Linked DNA regions of Homo sapiens: all the other regions are linked to region 2. Evidence: fine-mapped expression QTL. A gene starts in region 2. Each other region holds a variant in brackets. All regions are shown on one strand. Distances are from middle to middle.

Region 1 (2,766 bases), 25 kb after region 2:
GGCACCATTTATGAGTAAAATACCATTAAGACACAGAAATTATATTTCTACTCCAACCCAACCAAAAGTGAGAGTATACAGCCTTCTGTTGTGTAGTTACCCTTAGAAGAATAGAGAGTGAACAAGTTATCTCTAGTGTCTAAAGGGTGAAAAAAAGAAAAGAAAAGAAAAACAGACTGAAAAAGTAATGATTACATATTTTTGCTTCTTTCATTTCTGATTTCCCCAAGTATCTAATAAATTAAAATAAAACAAACTCCAAGATGCACATTCTTCTTATTTCTGGAGGAATAAAATCAAGGAGCTTATGGAAGACTTCAAAAAATTGTTGCAGTAGATATAACATGAAATGGAGGGGAATCATAGATTGTAACTGACTTTCTGCCTTCATACGCAACAGGAAGAATGTACGTTCATAGGCAACAAAGTGTTAGTAATCCTTGGTTGAAATATTGTTTTACCTCATGCAATGATAGTTGAGATCTAAAAGAAAAATTTTAAAATGTAAGAATATTAGGTTGGTGCAAAAGTAATTGCAGTTTTGCCATTACTTTTAATATATAATTAAATTTAAAATATAAATTAAAATGTAATGTATATTACATTTAATAATATAAACATACACACAAATGCATACACATAAAACAGAGTTATGGACCTGAAACAATCTATTCTTCTAGGAGAAAACAAGTAATAAAACCAACAGGTAACAAGCATTCAGAGATAATTGCCAGTAATACTCAGACATGTGTTTGATGATTAATAGCAATAGATTTCACAGAGGTGGTTAATAAAGAGGCAGGCAGTGTTGAGACAATATATAAAATGATTAAAAGTGAAATGGTCTTTGGTCCTCAAAGGAAGAAGGAAGGCCTAAAGAGTTTGTCTTTCCCAATACCTGTCACTAAGAAGGTTTTGTGGCATTGAGAAAACCAAGAAGAAGTTAAAGATAAAAACTTGCAAATGGAGAAATTATTCATATGGAAGTCTTGAGCAGTTATTTAACCACTCTTGAAAGTGAAACCAAACAATATCTCAGGCCTTTTTCAGCTTTATGAAAAGACTGATTATCACTAATTTCTTTAAGTGTCTGTTTTTAGATAATGAAAACAGTGGCTGAAAGAAAGAAGATGGAGTCAAAAAAAGTTTAATACTAAAGATCAAGAGAGCCAAATGTTGAATATTTGGCAACAATTGAAAGTACGAATCCCTGAGATTCAAACCTGGAAGTGCTGATTTACGT[G/A]CCAGAAAGCATGTGTTAAAAAGTTGTCTATTAGCCACATTTATCTAAATGCAACAGGAAGGATATGACTCCATCTTCCTAAATGGAATGCCTTCCAAAGCTCAGCTCTCTGAGAAATTTCAGAACAAATTTTTTCTTTCAGAAAAATAATCATTCTTGAATGCAAAAAGGACCAGTAGGAAATACATCTGATTATTGTTGAAACTGCTATATGTGGAACCCTCAAAAGTTTTCCTATCCAATACCTTCCTTGATTTCTTTGATTGGTAAGTCTTTGAAATTGCTGCACAAAGTAATCAAAAATGGAGAAGAAACATTTTTTTCCTATGAAGAATGATTCTAAAGAAGTGGATCTTAGTAACCAAGTGGAAGGGAAAATCTCGGCAAAGCCACTGATCTAATCCAATGCTTCCATTCTGCTGACAAGGAAAACAATAACATAAGCTAATTCTTCTCAAAGATAAGCAGTTGAGAGACAAAACCATATAAACTGAACCCTGGACTTAGCATAAAAAGATCTGAGTCATTTGTCCCTGCCAGGTTACCCACTAACAGTGAACTTGAGAAAGTAACATAAACTCTCTCACCTCATTGTCTCAGGTTGGTCATCAAGGGCTGCTAGTGCAAACATTCTCAGATTCTGGGATACTTTTATGATTAGACACATTCATAAAGAACAGACCGTACTGGCTTTAATCCCAAACTATGACAATAGGGAGTTGGAAAGGTATTCTTTTTCCAAACAAATTCTCCTTTAGTATTCCAAATAGAAAGGGAATATGATGAATAGATCCCTTGCTATCCCAAGAATTCTGTTTTTTCCCCTAGTGCTATCAGTTACTTGATATTTAGTTATTTGCTTTTTTAAAAAAAAAGTATTTTCTTTTCTTGCTATGTGTGGATCACTCAGGAACAAAAATATTTGGCTAAATATTTTTGACATTAACTACTTAATTTGAATATTTTTAAGATTTGCACAACTTTTTTAAGATATTACCTTGCTTGAATAAATTAATTAGAAGATTATCTGTTATGTAGCTGCACATAATGAACCCTTCCCAGATTGGGTCATTCCTAGCCATATTTTTGCCAATATTTTAAGGACCAATTTCTCTCCTAAACTTTGTCCCTTTATGTAGAAAGTATTCCCAACCACAATATATACTTGGCAGTTAAAACTGAATGTGGGTGGAAAAGAAACAAATCTTTCTTGCACATTTCTCATTAAATCCCAAAACCTCTTTGTAGCTTATTTTTAATTCTTTAGAGAAAAATCCTGTTACTAAAAATGTCTGGTACTACCAGAAGATATTACTTTTTGTCTTTTGATCCTGGGACCTGCAACCTGAAGAAAGGTATTGTGCCTTCACTAGGGTATAAGGATTCTGGGTTATCTTACATAACCTGTTGCTGAGTTAATTCAGGAGAAATGAAATATACAAAGAGCAATATGCCCTACAACTTTGACATCATCATCAACACCATCATTATCCATCATTGTAGCAAACACTCATAGCATTATT
Region 2 (2,766 bases):
CCCTGTGGTAGAAAGCTGTTCTAATGGCAATGGAGAGTTATTAAAAGTTTTTAAGGAGAGTAATTTGTTAGATTGAAGCCTAAGGAAAAATAATAACAACAAATGCAAGTACATAACAAACAAGAACGTGCAGAATGAATTAAAGGAAGAAGACTGGAATCAGGAAAGCAGTTAGTGTGTAAGAGTCAATGCCAGGGGAAATGAGGGCCTGCCTTACAGTGGAACTAAGGGGATGGGCAGGGATGGACAGGCTTCAGGGACTGACAGGAAAAGGTACATGGGGAAAAGAAGTCAAGTTTGGCTGTGGTTTTATCTCGCAGTGAGCCTAATTAGAAAATCTATCTCCATTAACCTAACAGCAGAGGGATACAGAGAAGAGGACAAGGAGGAGGACTATGGGCAGGGAATTGAGGGAAGGGATGGCTTCAAGATAATGAATTAGTCTTTGCTAAATATTACTTGATTTTCTCCTATATCCTCAACTTCAGGACTGCAGCTGGCTTTTTCTCTCTTGAGTTTCTGACCCTGCCTCACTGTAAATCATTTTCTTAGCTGTTCGGCTCTACTATGGGTTTCTAAAGCAACTGTGAAGTCTGCGCAGGGGAAAAACAAAAGAGATCCATCATGAATAAGATTACCAACCAGCTGATTGGTATTTCACTAAGAAAGAAACTGTTGCATTAGCTGACATTATACATATTTCCCTCTTGCTTTTTTCTTCTCTCTCTCTCTCTTTTCCTTTTTCATTCTCTTATTTTTTTCATCCTCTGGACTAAACTATATTACTGCATACAGAAGTCTGACACCCACTTAGAAAGTTCTTTCTCTAGAGACACACACACAAAAGCCATCTTTTTCCTGAGATTGAAAGGAGCAGGGTGACTGCTTGAAGCTGAGTGTAAAGACCACCAGTGGGAAGAAATGACACTGAAGCAGTCTGCTTACTCTCTAGTGAAGAAGGTATTATAATTCTCTTACAGATGCGAAAACTAGTCTCAGACAGGTTTGATAATTTCTTCACAGAGCCACAAGGTAGCAGAGCAGGGACCTTAAGCAGATCTATGTTATCTCATGCCCCTGTTAGCACTCAAAATTTCCAAATGGAACAAACCCCCAATGGCTGCCTCTAGTGCCCTGTAACAATGAATTATTTGATCTCTGTGGCTTCTTGAGTCTTTAAGGTAATTTAACTCTTTTTTTTTTTTGCAAAAATAAACAAACCAGGGCACACAGTGAGAAGTTCTGGGCAGAAGTGAGGGAAAGTTCAGAGGAGCTGACTCCAGCCACATACCTCCACGCAGGGCTCCCAGCTTTCTGGTCTCACGCAGGAGAGGAAGGCCATGGCTGGGATCAGAGTCCCAGCCAGGCGCGAGGCAGACATCATCCTGGCATCATCCTCACTGCTTCTGTGAGCAGCAGTGGCCCTGTGAATGCGTGGCTCGCTATCACCGTCTGACCGAGCAGTTTCTGAGGCACTGGTGTCTTCTCTTCCTCGAGCCGCCCCACAGCAATTGGTGTATTCAAAGCAGTTCTGGGCTAAAGGGTGAGAGGAAGTGAAAGCGGCAACCTTAGCATTCTGGACTTTTGTTTCTCTAATAGTTATCTCTTTTGTCACAGGAGAGGAAGTTAGAAGAAGAAAACGCCTGCAGACCAGTGGCTAAAGAAACAGCAAGAGGAAGCTAGTTGGCTTTTATCCCAATTAGTCATCTGACCTCTGCCTGGGCTTGGTGAATTTAGGAAAACAATCAGGTTCTATTAAAATAGCCCTTGTAACTCTCTAGGATGACGGTGATTTTCCAATTTTGTTTCAGCTGTGGAAACACTATTTGTATTAGTTTGCTGGGGCTGCCATAAGGAAATACCACAGACTGGGTGGCTTAAACAACAGACATTCATTTTCTCACAATTCTAGAGGCTTCCAGTCTGAACTCAAGGTGTCAGCAAGTGTGTCTGAATTCTAATCTCCCCTTCTTATAAGGACACCAGTTATGTTGGATTAGGGCCCACCATAATGACCTCATTCTACCTTACATACCTCTTTCAAGGCTCTCTCTCCATATACAGTCATAGTCTGAGGTAGAGGGGTTAGGACTTCGATATGTAGGTTTTTGCAGGACACAATTTGGCCCGCCCCTTCTTGTGAAGAAACTCACATACAAAACTGAAAATAAACCTCAACTGAAACACAGTTTGAAAAGTACAAGAAGATTGGGAAAAGTCTGGGATTTCAGAATGGAATATACTGAAGTTCAGATCTCAGCTGGGTGACTCATGGCTTTGAGGCATTGGTCAAGTCATGTAAACCGCTAAGCTTTACTTTCTTTCTTTTCTTTTTTCATTTTCTGTATTATGGTAAAATCACATAACATAACATGACATAACATAAAATTTATTATCTTGACCATTTGTATGTGTACAATTTAGTGGCATTAATTATGTTCATATTTTTGTACAATCATCACCACTATTCATTAATAAATAACTCCCCATTTCCCCTTTCCCTAGGCCCTTGAATCTATGCACTACTTTTGTCTCTATAATCTTGACTACTCTAGGCAGCTCTTAGAAGTGGAATCATACAGTATGTATCTTTTTGTCACTGGCTTATTTCACTTTGCATAATGTCCTCAAGGTTCTTTTCTGTGTAGTATAGATCAAAGCCTCCTTCCTTTTTAAAGCTGAACAATATTCCATTGTATGTATAGACCACATTTTGCTTATCCATTTGTCTGTTCATGGACACTTGCATTGTTGCCACACGTTAGC
Region 3 (2,766 bases), 26 kb before region 2:
GACGACAGAAAATACATAGTGGAGATATCAGTTTCCTTCCTGTGAAACAAGGTGAATTGGCTTTATCAGTGCTTCTCAAATCTGCTTAATGATCAAATCACCCAGGGAATTCCAAAAATTATGCACTTCCTCTTCATAACTTAGAAGGGTTTCATTAAGTCCTTCAAGGTTGGGGTCCATGAACCTGTCTCTTTTTTCAAAGCACCCTCTCCAGGAGATTTTGGTTATTAGTTAGGTTTGCTGACCACTTAACTACATCTCAGTTCTATCTGTGTCAACCAAAGATAAAATTATTACCTATCCAATTGCAGGCCCAGCCCCCACCCCTGGATGTTTCTCTTGAACTAGCTCCTTGCCCCAGAATTGGGGGCCCCTGACCATCAAGGCTGGTCACAGTTTGGGAAGTCACTGCCTCCCAAGGAAGTTCATTCAGCATTGGTTAGGTCTGGCTCCCCTGAAAACTCAGGCTTAGGCTAACTCCACACCTGTTTATGCCCTGTAATGTCCATCTACCACTCCGCTCGGGGTCAAGTAGAGTCTATGGAGGGCATATGCCAGCACACAGCCTGGCATTCTGTGAGTGCTTGGGAATATCCAAGGGACCCCTATGGGCCCGAAATCCTACTGGAATTCAGTGCACTAGCAAACACTGGTTGATGATCTGATCAGAGAAGGCTTCCAGAAGAAATGAAGTTTTAGCTGGACTTTGAAGGATAGAAAGGGCTTAAGGAGATAGAAATTAGGTGTTGGGAAATGTTGAAGCTCCTTATCTTAGCAAGGGATGAGATCAGAAATGAGTTTTTACATCTGTCACTCATGGATGGTGTGGTGGATGGATTAAAGGGGAGAATACGGGAGGTAAGAAACCTCCCTTGCATGGTCTATGCACACAGGGAGAAGCCAATGGGCACAGTATGGTGGGAGGATTTGAAGGCCACGAGGGCAGTTGGGGCCATGCAGTCACAGAGTGGGGAAATAGCATTTATTAAGCCCCTACTGTGTGCCAGTGGTCTGCCTCCACTATCTAACTCCCTCTCCATCCTAATCTAAGAAAGTAAGCATCTTTA[T/C]CCCCATTTGGCATGCTAACAAACTGAGGATGACAACAGTTATATGACTTTCTTAAAGCTATTCATGCAAGAAGTGGTAAAAATTAGGATTTGCACCCAGACTGGCTTGTCTCTACATATCAGGAACAGAAAGACATGTAATTAAACTGCAGATTTTTTTAAAAAAAGGGAAATGGTGACAGAGTAGCCATTTGCAGAGGAAGCAAAGGGGGTATCTAGATAAAAAATAGAAGGAGAGAAACACACACACATACACACACACACACACACACACAATTACAGTCTAAGTGAGCCTGTCCCCTTGTCCTCTGGCTAATATATTCTGGGGCGAGTTTAGGGGATCTAGGAGAGAATGACTTGTCAGCTCATAGGAAGTAAATGATAGCATGAGAATTACCGATAATCTTATTCTCCTCTTTCAAACCTACCAAGGGACTAAGACGCATGTATTTTTTTTCTTTTTTCAGAAGAGGTTCGTTTTTCCTTTCATAACCACGGGCCTAGATTGTTTCTCTTTTCCCTCTGGTGTTTGGTCAAATACAACCTGATACGTGATGAGACTGAGCCTTTGCTAGGGGATACAAAAAAAAAAAAAAAAAAAAAAAAAAAAAAAAAACCAAAGTCGTACATGTTAGGCATTTCCATTCAGAAGGACCTCCTCCTGTCTCTTCCACTTGAGGCTTTTGCTCAAATTAAATTACCTTCTGCCTGTTGTCACCACTGTTCTATATATATCTATTGCCTGAGCTATTGAGATAAATGAGTGGAGCCCAAGTTGTTGGGTCAGGCCACAGGAGACATCACAGTTGCTACCAACTCTCTAAAAGAACAGATTGTGTTTCTGGCCCTGAAAGTCCCACTCCATGCTTTGTGGGACAGAGCTAAAAAGGGCTATAGTATCTATGTCTCGTGATTTTTGAGTTCATTTTCTAACAAGATCAGGAATCTCTTTGACATTCATCAAAGCAATTGAGGGTAAAGTCTCCACGTTCTTTTGATGGGTTCCTAGGGCCAGTCTTTTCCGTTTCAATCCACCCACCACACCATCCCCTGAGTAACAGAGTTACATCTCATTTCCGATCTTTTCCCTCCCTAGAATAAAGAACTTCAGTATTTCTAAACACCTTAAGAGACATTCCAGGCCCTTCTGGGTCTTCCCTGCTGCTGTCCTTCTAATTTTTTTCTTCTTTATCTCACCTTTATTTTTACTATTAAAAACAATTGTAATAATAGGTATCACAAATTTAAGTGCTTACTATATGATGGTGTGCCAATTAATTTCTATTCATCATATTAATGTATTTTATCCCATTATAATTCTCTGAGGCAAACATCTGCAGTATCCTCAATGTACCAGACTAGATGATGAAACTTAGGAACAGAAGGGTTAAGTAGCGTAACCTGCCCCAGGTCACACAGCTTCTATGTGGTAGATCAGTGATTTAGGTCTGTCTGTCACCAAACCCCAAATCACTAATCTTTACCTCATGTATGTCACACTACAATATAGCCACTTGTTTACATGTCTGTCCCTCTGTCACCTAAATCATCAACTCCTACCAAGAGATTAAGAATCATGCTTTTTTTTCCCATTGTTTTTGTCCCTGCTGGAACAGGGTCATGGTGGCCACACAGTATATATTTCCCCAATTTTAACATTTTTTTATTTTAAAAAGAGGAGGGCAATATTGCCAATGGA

Evidence for each region. PIP is the estimated chance that this variant, and not a neighbour inherited with it, causes the effect.
Region 1: its variant is fine-mapped to the expression of TLR4 in atrial appendage (GTEx, PIP 0.96).
Region 3: its variant is fine-mapped to the expression of TLR4 in whole blood (TOPMed, PIP above 0.99).

Annotation. Positions count from the first base shown.
Region 1 is chr9:117,678,146-117,680,911 of GRCh38, reverse strand. No RefSeq gene overlaps it. Among named protein-coding and RNA genes, the nearest start is that of TLR4, 25 kb to the left of the region's middle. The variant G/A (reference allele first, on the strand shown) is at 1,244.
Region 2 is chr9:117,703,091-117,705,856 of GRCh38, reverse strand. TLR4 (toll like receptor 4) reads right to left here and starts at 1,454. Exons shown (of 3, transcript NM_138554.5): 1 at 1,292-1,454. The coding sequence starts at 1,384. RefSeq lists enhancers at 1-768, 884-1,384, 1,355-1,424, 1,435-1,484, 1,385-1,885 and 1 more.
Region 3 is chr9:117,728,656-117,731,421 of GRCh38, reverse strand. No RefSeq gene overlaps it. Among named protein-coding and RNA genes, the nearest start is that of TLR4, 26 kb to the right of the region's middle. The variant T/C (reference allele first, on the strand shown) is at 1,068.